Regions from separate parts of the Homo sapiens genome. Here region 1 is linked to region 2. The links come from fine-mapping of genetic effects on gene expression. A gene starts in region 2. The other region holds a variant in brackets. All regions are shown on one strand. Distances are from middle to middle.

Evidence for each region. PIP is the estimated chance that this variant, and not a neighbour inherited with it, causes the effect.
Region 1: its variant is fine-mapped to the expression of DHRS3 in whole blood (TOPMed, PIP 0.97).

The regions. Positions count from the first base shown.
Region 1 is chr1:12,586,799-12,592,164 of GRCh38, reverse strand. The region is part of intron 1 of DHRS3 (dehydrogenase/reductase 3); the gene reads left to right. Among named protein-coding and RNA genes, the nearest start is that of MIR6730, 10 kb to the right of the region's middle. The variant G/T (reference allele first, on the strand shown) is at 1,963.
Region 2 is chr1:12,615,400-12,620,765 of GRCh38, reverse strand. DHRS3 (dehydrogenase/reductase 3) reads left to right here and starts at 2,556. Exons shown (of 6, transcript NM_004753.7): 1 at 2,556-3,612. The coding sequence starts at 3,418. RefSeq lists a silencer at 549-800 and enhancers at 1,036-1,667, 1,668-2,299, 2,300-2,931.

The DNA.
Region 1 (5,366 bases), 29 kb after region 2:
GATTGTTCACTGTGGTGGCGGTGAGTGCTTGTCACAGTCCCACCCCGCCCACTTGGAGAGCAAGGGTGCTCCAGGCAAACCCCATACCCCCTCACAGCAAACACCAGCCCTGGGCACTGTGCTGACCCATGCTCAGAACAGCTTCTGTCCTCACCTGTCCTCCCACCTGAGCCCCATCAGAGCCCCAGTGTCCTCGCAGAGGGGCAAGGAACATCTCTGCCATGCCTTTCATAACCACTTGGTCATCAAGACCGAATGATGACCGCACCTTTCCCTCATTCCCTGGGAGGTGGACACCTTTCTGTCCAGTCCTTGGACATGGCATCAGCTCACTGTACCTGTGCACTGAATGAATATGTTGTTTCGTGGGGTCATTTTGCTCCCGCAGGTAAAGTCAGTGGCCAAGGGCACAGATTGCATAAGTTGAGGTCCCAGCTCTACCGCTTACCGCTTGGAATTACATAGCCCCTTCGTGTATCAGTTTTCTCGGGTATGAGCCCTTCTGAGCTGACAGAGGACTAGACGCCCCACGGCACCCATGCTGAGGCAGTGTGGCCAGCTAGTGAGCCCCACGTGCATGTCAGAGCTACTGTCATTCCTGTGCCTCCCAAGCGGGCCAGTTCCAGGCTGGACGTCCGCCTGGAGGAAGTCTCTGCCCTGCTCCAGGTTGCGGTCAGGGACTTGTGGGAGGGCGACACCACTGGCTGATCTAATTTGAGGAGCTTCATCACAATCCTCCCCAACAGCTGAGCCAGCGGTAGCCAAAACATTCTCGGCAGGCCAAAACAGGGGCCTGGAGCCAGGGAAAGCCTGTTTTGCAGGGCTACGTGGGAGAGACCTGCCTAGGCTTCAGCAGCCCAGCAGTGCAGGAACAGGAAGGACACATAAGGACCTAGCCGAAGTCCCTGACAGGCCCAGTGGCTTCTGTCACCTCTGACCTCCTGGGGTCAGCCGTGGGGCACCTGTAACGACCTAGGGCTACACCAATAAATGCTAGCTGTTACTATTTTTATTAGTACAGCAACAGATATAGATCCCCCTTGCTGATGGAAGATCCAGAACCCTGCTGGGGTAATGGTTGCCTGGAAAACCCGAAGCTCTATGTCTGTCTCCTCCCCTAGAAACAGCCTTGAGTGGGACAAAACCACAGAATCGCACGATCTCTCTGTCCCCATCCTTTTACCTGACAGCATGCAGACTGGATTGTGTAGAGTCTGGAAAACAGGCCTCCCAGAAAAAAAGGTGGAAGGGATTAGAAAGTCTGGGAAGGAGATGCTGGAAGTCGGTACCTGATCATTGTGGATCAGTTTTGATCAGTGTGATCAGTGTGGATCTGCACTGGAAGCAGAAGGGCTGGTAGGCTTGTTGGGTGTGCCCGAGTGACAGGCCAGCACTCTCAATGGGTGACAGCTAGAGGGATCCCACTGGAGTCCATTCGGAGAAAGCAGGCTTCCTTCCAGGGCTGTGCTGGGGAGGAAGAGGCTGCGGATTCAGAGTCACATTCCAACTATTTTTTTTTTTTAGCGACAGAGTCTTTGTAGAAATGACTATTCTAGGTCGGGCACGGTGGCTCACGCCTGTAATCCCAGCACTTTGGGAGGCCGAGGCAGGTGGATCACCTGAGGTCAGGAGTTCGAGACCAGCTTGGCCAACATGGAGAAACCCCGTCTCTACTAAAATTACAAAATTAGCCGGGCGTGGTGGCGCATGCCTGTAATCCCAGCTACTCGGGAGGCTGAGGCAGGAGAATTGCTGGAACCCAGGAGGTGAAGGTTTCAGTGAGCCAAGATCACGCCACTGCACTCCAGTCTGGGCAACAAGAGTGAAACATCATCTCAAAGCAAAAGAAATGACTATTCTAGAAACCTAAAGTGTCACCACTCTGGGTGACTGGGGCAGGAGTGAGGAGAAGCCTGGAATGATATCTGCTTGCTCCCCACCCCACCCTCAGCACCTCCAGAG[G/T]CTCCTCACCAGAACCCCCAGAGTTCCTTGGGGCTCTGCTTGAAAACCTCTCCTCCCTAAGAAATCCCCCCGCAGCTTGCTCTGCAGGTGGACAGTTTTGACAGCTGGTCTCTACCTTCTCAGGCTTGGGGACGTAGAAAAAGGAGAGCCTTCTAAGTAAGGTGGAAGGATGGAATCAAGAAATAGCAAGATTCTGTGGTTTTGCCCCAGTCAAGGCTGTGCCTAGGGTAGTCAGATGGAGGTGGAGACCAGATGGGGTCTTCCGGGCAACTGTTTCCCCAACAGGGTATGTGGATCTTCTACTGCAAAGGGGGATCTATTTCTGTTGCTGTGCTAATAATAATAATAATAATAATAATAATGACAGCTAGCTTTTTACAAAACAGAGACAGAGTCTTGCTATGTTGCCCAGGCTGATCTTGAACTCCTGGCCTCAAGTAATTCCCCCACCTCGGCCTCCCAAAGTGCTGGGAATATAGGCGTGAGCCAACATATCCAGCCCACAGCTGGCATTTATTGTGCCCTTTCTTAATCCTCCCAACTACTCTTCAAAGTGGGTGTTTTAGGCTGGGCACGGTGGCTCACACCTGTAATTCACCATATTGGTGAATTATGGTGAAACCCCATCTCAACTAAAAATACAAAAATTAGCTGGGTGTGGTGGTGCACACCTGTGATCCCAGCTACTTGGGAGGCTGAGGCAGGAGAATCGCTCAAACCCAGGAAGCAGAGGAGGCAGTGAGCCGAGATCGCGCCACTGCACTCCAGCCTAGCCCACAGAGCAAGCCTCCATCTCAAAAAAAAAAAAAAAGAAAAAGAAAAGAAAAGAAAAAGAGTGGATGTTTTAAACCTTAATTCATAGAGGTTAAGATCATGTTAATTCATAACTGTTAAAGAATTGAACCCAGGCAGTCTGGCTCCAGAGCCCATGTTCTAAGCTGCTCTACTCGAGAAAGGGTCTCTCCTTTTGGAAATAGACAGGGTTGTGAAAGGGGGAAATTCTAGTAGTAACCTATGCCACGCTCACACTCACCCTCTGCTATCTAGCACCCCATTCTAACCTTAATGTCTTAAAAGCTAGATGTTGCTTGCCTGCTCATTCTCATCTGACCACAGGGATGGATTTTTATTAACAGCCTCCTACTGGAGGGGCCAGGAGCAGAGAGCTGTGCACCCTCCACGCTGTGACCTTCCCACCCCACCGCCCAGCCTGCTGTGGTTTGGGGTCTCTGGCGGGTATTTTCTTTCCCTCTGAGAAGCCAAGTCAGCACCGATCCAGCTCCAAAACATGGGGCCCATGGGACATGAGCTGGCCTGCCAAAGACCTGCCCAGGGTCTCAGATCTTTCAGGGGCTGCCAATTATAAACAGATGCTCCTCCTGGGACGCACCCAGAGACCACCCAGCTCATGTCGCCGGTGGGAGGGTGCGCTGCAGCTGAACTCCAGGAATGAAAGCCAAGTCCAGCATTAGTGCAAGCCCCTCTGGGCTAGGAAGGCAAGGCTGGGTAGAGAAGGGGCACTCGGTATCCTCCTGGGGCTGGTGTCTTGTGATGATGTTAGCTGAGCTTTTACTCTTGTGCCTGGCCCATGCTGGATGCTGGGGTTACGAGATGAATAAGATTCCCTGGAGGACCTTGCACGCTCATGGGAGAGGCAGGGGTGTTCACCAGTCAGCATGCTCACATCTGTGCACTAGTGGAGGTTGAAAAAAGACTAGTGTTAGCAGTGAGGAATGGGTATCCTGAGTCAGGCAGATCTGCTCTTATGAGCTGCATGACCTTGGGTGAGTCACTGTCTGTCTGCGGCTTACCTATTAAATGCAGAAGGTAAACATACCCACCTCGAGGGGTTGTGAGGATTAAAGAAGAAAACATATCCATGTACTCAGCACAGTGTCTGGCCCATGGCAACTGCTCAACAGATTTAGCCATTATATAGTGGTGGTGCTGTTGTTGTTGTGGGGAGGCTGGAAGGAGCAGCCAGGGAGGCTTCAGAACTGAGGGAGCATTCAAGTAGGGTTTTGCAGGTTGAATAGGAGTCCATAAGTAGCCCTGGCATTTGAAACAGAGAAAAACAGCCCGGGCCGGGCACCAGGTAGGGACACAGGAGAAACCTGAATTTGAGAGATTTAGTCCCTGTCCTCTAAGAGACAGGATATAGACCCCAAATGGCCGTGACAGCACATGCAGGGCCAAGAGCACTGTGTAATGAGTGAGTGGAAACTGGGAGCTGTGGATCCCCGGCAGGCTCCCTCCCTCACTCACTCAACAACAGGAAGAGAGATGTGAATAGACAGTCACTTGCCAATGGATGAGGGCCCCCGAAGAGCACCACTCGGGGGCTGGGGGACAAGGGGTTGGACCCAAAGGGCTGAGTGACATTACCTGTGTGTAAAGAATCTATTTGGAGAGTGATCCATGGGGAAGCTTTTACTCTACCTTCTGTTGTTTTTTGTTTTGTTTTGTTTTGTTTTGTTTTTTGGTTTTTGTTTTTTTGAGACCGGCTCTCTCTCTGTCATCCAGGCTGGAGTGCAGTGGTGAGATCTTGGCTCACTGCAGCCTCTGTCCCCTGGGCTCAAGCAATCCTCCCACCTCAGCCTCCTAAGCCACCACACCCAGCCCCACCTTCTATTTTTAAGATCATAAATAACAATACTTGTTCTTTAGAGATATTTTTTGCTTATACAAATATAAAGAAGCAAACGACAGTCAGCTGTGATCCTGCCTGAGACACCCATCTCTGTGTAGCCTGTTGACTTCCAGTGACCTGGTGGCTTATGCCTGTAATCCCAGCACTTTGGGAGGCTGAGGTGGGAGAATCACTTGAGCCCCAGGAGCTTGAGACCAGCCTGGGAAACATGGCAAAACCCCATCTCTACAAAAAATATAAAAATTAGCCAGGAGTAGTGGCTTGCACCTCTGGTCCCAGCTACTTGGGAGGCTGAGGTGGGAGGATCACCTGAGCCCAGGAAATGGAGGCTGCAGTGAGTCATGATTGCGCCACTGCACTCCGGCCTGGGCAACAGAGTGAGACTCTGTCTCAAAAAAAAAAAAAAAAAAAGTTTAGAGTTGAGATTATCTTATTCAAATAGTGCTGCACCCCTTTTGTCTGAACATTAGACTCCTGAGCATTTTTCCATGTCGTGTCACTTATCATTTTAAAGCCTGCAGAAGAGGGTGTATCAGAGGCAGTGAAGAGGGTGTATCAGAGGCAGTGAAGAGGGTGTATCAGAGGCAGTGCTATGATTTTCTCAGCTTTTCCTCCCCACGGGAAATACCAACAGGGAGTGGGTACTGAGCAGTTAGTTAGTGGGTGCCAGCTTCTGCCAGCTTAATCCCCACAGGACCCCTTGAAGAGAGGAGATGTGCTTTCTCTTACAGGACAGTGAGTGGTGGTGCAATCC
Region 2 (5,366 bases):
ATCTTCCCAGGGACCTCGGGGGAGGGCAACAGAGGAGGTGACAAGTTTCTCTCTGAGCAGTTGATGCTGGGAGAAACGTGTGGCTTGCAGAGCTGCCAGTCCCACAAAAACCACATCCTGAAAGATGGACCAAGTAGAAAAAAAGGCCACCATCCACCTCAGGCCAGCTTCTGGAACTGTCAGTTCCTTTGGGGAATGTCTGACATGTTCTTTTTCCCTCTGATTTCATCCCAAACCTTTTGAGAAGCAGGTTGCGTGGCATTGCACAAGTTACTTAGATTTACTGAGCCTGTTTCCTCCTGCAATAAATGGGCACGAGCCTCCCTGGGCTGTTAAGGAAATTCAATCAGAAACTGTGTAAAGGCCCTGAGGCACTAAAGGCCAATTTGGGTTCCCGACCTCCTTCCCACCGTCTGCCCTCCATCCCAGGCACACAACCAGAGAGATGTAAGAGGGACCTAACGGTTACCCAGCCGGTCTGGCATCTGACCGGGGTGAAAATGCATCTCTGTATATGAGTTGCTTCATATCTTTTGGCTTTAGTTTCCCCAGCCATAAAAGTGTGTTTGGGGTGGGGGAGGAGGACTATGATCTTCACAAGCCCTTTTAGACTTGGGGTGTTAACCTTACATGAGAGAAATGCCTGGAAGAAAAGCATGGCTAGTTAGCAGGAACGCCGCTGGGTTGGAGGCCGGGCAGCTCGGAGGCGCAGTATCCTATCTGGGCCACCAGGCGGCTCCGAGGACAACAGATGAGCAAAGCCCGCTTTTGCAGCCTGGTTCTGTCTTCAGATCTTTCCAGGCTTCTTCGCAGGCCTGGCGGACACCAGCCGCTGCTGGGTGGGAAAGGCCTGTCACTCCCAGGCTGGAATCGCTTTCCCATTTTTACAGACCTCGAAGATGAGAGGAGGCCGTCACCACAATGGATTCCGGCCCTGGGGTCTGATGGAGACATTGGTCCGCCCTTCGGTCAGACTCTTGGGGGCGTTAGGGGGGTGGGGGGGTCTCTGCTCTGCAACCCTTAGCTGAACCCCATCCTCCACTTCTCTCCTCCCGTCTGGTCAGAGTGGGAAGAGGTTTGGATTGGGATCCCCCCTCCTGCACTTCCTGGCTGGGTAACCTGGACGATGGGATAACAGTCCCCCGATTGCAAGGTCAGGGGAAGGACTGTGTCAGAATATAGGCCCTCAGTGCAGGACAGTTGCTCATCCTAAGCCTCTCCTGCCTTTTGCTCTTCCAGTGGCTTTTCACCCAGAAGGAAGATCCTCCCCTGCAGAACCTCTCCCCAGAACTAGGTCTTTGCAGGTGACGAGGTAATCCCAGCCTCCCCTCCCCGCAGATCAGCGTTTTTCGAAGTGACTTTCTCACCAGGCGGAGCATTGAAAGTACCGATCCCAGCGCACCCAGCCCTGCTGAATCAGAATCTCTGGGGGTGAGGCCCAGGAATCGCCGTCTGAACAAGTCGCGGGCTGGAAACGGCTGCCCCAGATTACAGGGCAGCTCCCTGCTTCGCTCTCGCTCCTCCGGCCCCGGGAACGTGCAGGGGGGCGGGAGGCAAGTCCCATCAGCACTTTGAACTGGGGCTGCTTTTTAGTGACTCACCTCCCAGACTTCCTGCAACAGACAACTCTAAATAGCTCGGTCCCACCCTCCAGCAGGGGAGACATTCCGGTCGGGAAGGGCAGGAGGTTAGAAGGTGGGTGCCCCGCCAGGGCAGTCCAGGGAGACCCAAGGACAGGAGACGCTGGCTGCACAGCACAGGGGCGCACGAATAGGACGTTTTGTTTACAGGCTTTTGTTATTAAGGAAATTGGTGTCAGTCAAGGTAATTCTAGCTCAGATGAGCAATAAATATGCTCCCAGCTAATCTTGTGGGGATTTTATTGGCACTCGGAGCAGAGGTTCCTTTACCTTGACTACTCCCTCCCCTCAAAGCAAAGTCCTGCTCCCCAGCGGCTTCCCCCTAAGCATCGTGAGGCACTTGGGTCAGGCTTTTAAAAGTCCACTCTACGTGAACACAGAAGAGGTCCGGGCAAAGGTGAGGAGTGGCTTCCTGATCCTACCTGGAGGCCGAGGATGACCAAATGACCTGAAATAAAACCCTGGGTGACCTGGTTGGATCAAGGCATACGCAAGCTCCCCCGGGCCTGCTCCACACTCGGGGTGATCACCTGGCCCGCGGGCGGCCCGGGCAAGGAGGAACGTCTCGAGAAGGCAGCCGGCTCGCCGGAGTCGGTTCCAGCGTGTTCGAGTTACAGCTGCGAGCCCTCAGGGACACCGGCGGCAAGTCCCGGCTTGCAGAGAGGGGAGCCAGTCCCGGGAGAGCGCGAGTCCCGGCGAGCCCGAGTGCGCGCCTTATGCGCGCTCCCCGCGACGGCGCAGGGGGAGGGGAGGCCGCAGCAGCCACTCAGAGGAACGGTAGTGAAGCCTCCCAACAACTTTAACTGTCAATCAGACTTAATGGGGTATTGAAAAAATGGGGGAAAAAGGGGCCGCCCTCTCCGCGACGCGGCTGCCCGGGGAGCGAATGAATAGGGCCGCGCAGACCAAGGCGTCCGATCCACGCGCGCTCCACACCCGGACCCTCTCCAAGTTGGAAAGGACAAAAAGAAGGCAATAAATGCTAAAAAGGGAGAGAAGGGGAGCTGGATCGAGCGGCAACTCCCAGCCTCTGCTGGAACAGAGAGGGAGGGAGGGAGCCGGAGCGAGCGAGCGCGCGCGAGGGCGAGCGCTGCACGTAAAGAAACTGACACCCGGACCCCCCACTTCTCCTGCACGTTGCTGGCAATCAGATCGCGTTTAAGCAATTTCCTGAGCCCAAGAATAGCAATGAGTCGGGAGACTTTCGCGGGCTGAAATTGGGAGCTCCAAGCACTTTTTCCCCCCACTTTTTTTTTTTTTTTTTTTCTGGAGACGGGGTGGGGGTGGGGGCGCTACAATTTGGAATCAGCTTTTTTTTTTTTTTTTTTTTTTTTTTTAATCTTGCACTTTGAAACCGCGGGACCGAGGCAGGGTGCGCGCGTGTGGTTGGTGCCTTTTTTTTTTTTTCTTCCCCTCCCTAAACTCCTCTGTCAGTCTGTAAACATTACCTGAGAATTCCCCAGCCGAAACGGCTGCTGGGGCAAGAAACTTCTTGTTAGAACTTTCCACCTCCGGCTTCCCCCTCCACCTCTTTTACCGTCCCAACCTTAGGAGACGCTTTTTCTCCCCCAGAGGAGAATTTATCTTTTTTTTTTTTTTTTTTTTCTTTTTCTCACCCGGTGCTTTGCATTTGGGAAGAGGTGATTTCAAGAGTGGCCAGGTGGGACGCCTCTCTCCTCCTTATTCGGTTTACTATTTATTGTTCGGGGTGTTTTTTAATTCCTGTATTGCTCGGCCCGGGGAGTTTCGCCCCCTGCCCGGCTCCGCGGCGCGGAGGATGGTGTGGAAACGGCTGGGCGCGCTGGTGATGTTCCCTCTACAGATGATCTATCTGGTGGTGAAAGCAGCCGTCGGACTGGTGCTGCCCGCCAAGCTGCGGGACCTGTCGCGGGAGAACGTCCTCATCACCGGCGGCGGGAGAGGCATCGGGCGTCAGCTCGCCCGCGAGTTCGCGGAGCGCGGCGCCAGAAAGGTACCAGGCACTGCGACTCCAGGGAGTGGGGGGCCGCAGGGGCGGGGGTAAGCCCACCTGCTGCCGCTGCGGGATCCCGCGCCCGGGAGCTGAGAGTCGCCGGCCACCCCACTTCTCCGCGCCACCCACGAGTGCTGAGCTAGTCGGTTTCACCTTGTAAATTTCCCGGGCACCGGACTGTCTTTTTTGGCAGGTTCAGAGTTGATCCGCTCCTTTGGGATCGGTGGCTGGCTGACTGGCTATTCACCCCCACCCTGAAACCTAAGAGACCCACCATTTCCCACATTCCTGCCTCCCAAAGGAAGGTGTTGTGCCCCCCTCCCCCGCCTTCCCCCCTTTTTCTTGCCGCCACCCTGGTGAGTGCAGGGTGTGCGCACTCCTGGGTAGAGCTGGGAGCCGCCTGCTAGCTGGCGCCTCGTATTTTCCTTGGCAACCCGCTACCCAGCCCCAACCTGGGCGGCTGCAGCTCTGAAGACACGAGAGAGGGTACTTGGTTTGGGTTTGAAAAGGGAAGAGCGGTCTTGTATGCAGTAGTCTGGCCGGACCGACACTGAGAGGCCCAGGTGTTTGGAAAGCAGGAAAGAGGAGGCCAGGGTAAGCAGCTACTGATAAAGAGCCCTTGTTCTCACCTTCAACCCTGTCCCCTCCCCCCCAGTACACCCCCCAGGGATCCCTCCCCATTTAGCTGGAAGGTGGTGCTGCAAGGAGGGTCCTGCCCACCAAACACGGCCTTTAACTTTTTGGTGGTCCTGGCACCCCTTGCTCCAGGTTTTGGAGACCTGGTGCCAGAGTGGGGAGAGTGGGCAGGCTGTCACCCAACTCCCAGCCCAGGCCAGGCTGACTCACGCGGTGACCAGAGCCATCAGGAGAGGGAGGCAGGCCAGGCTGTCTCCAGCCAGCCCTGTGAAGAGGAAGAGCGAAAACAGGGAATTAGTTTGAAACTTAAACTGTTGTGAACTAGGGGGGTGAAAGGGCCGCAAAGCCAGCTGATCTGACATGGAGCCGCATACCTTGGGGATTAAGTAAATATGTACTGTAGAAAACCAAACCTGCATGTAATTCCAGGTTGCTTTTGTTTTGTTAAATACTGCCCTGAGATTTACAATTCCTCCGGGGTGGCTCTGACTGGGACTGAACTTTGGAGCCTGAACTATCAGCCAAAGCCGATCCGATTAACTCTTCCCTAGCCGGGCTGGCCGGAGCCTGTGGTGGCCAAGCTAGCAGGGGTCTGGCTGTCCAGGACTCCCTCTTCTCCTTGGGTGGTTTGGACAGCCGCTTGACCTTGCATTTGGAGGGGGAGTTGGGAAGCGTTTTTAACCCTTGGACACAACGAATAAGGGGAAGTCAGAGTTGTTCTCAGCAGTTTCATTTCCTTGAGGCGATGCCCCATAAAAGGGCTCCTGAAGCTCTTTGTGAAGGGGACTGAAAAGGGCAGATGAGGGTGTCCTTTGGGGCGGACGTGGGGTTTGGGACAATTGCATGTGATTGTCATTCTTTAGCTGTCTGCATCCCACAGAAACTTTTTTCTGAGTCTTCCAGCTGGCCCAAGTCCTGGGTCTCTTTTACTGTTCTTGTAGCTGACTACAGTAGGCAGATGAGGAACTCTTAGTCAATCTGGAAAAACTCGACTGACTATAAACAATCCTAAATTGAAAGAAGTGTATGGCATTGGGGGGTGGGTGTGATAGTACAGAGTGGAGCCTGCAAGTTCACGCACCGGGAACCAAACCCCACCTAACTTGGACTGGACGTCC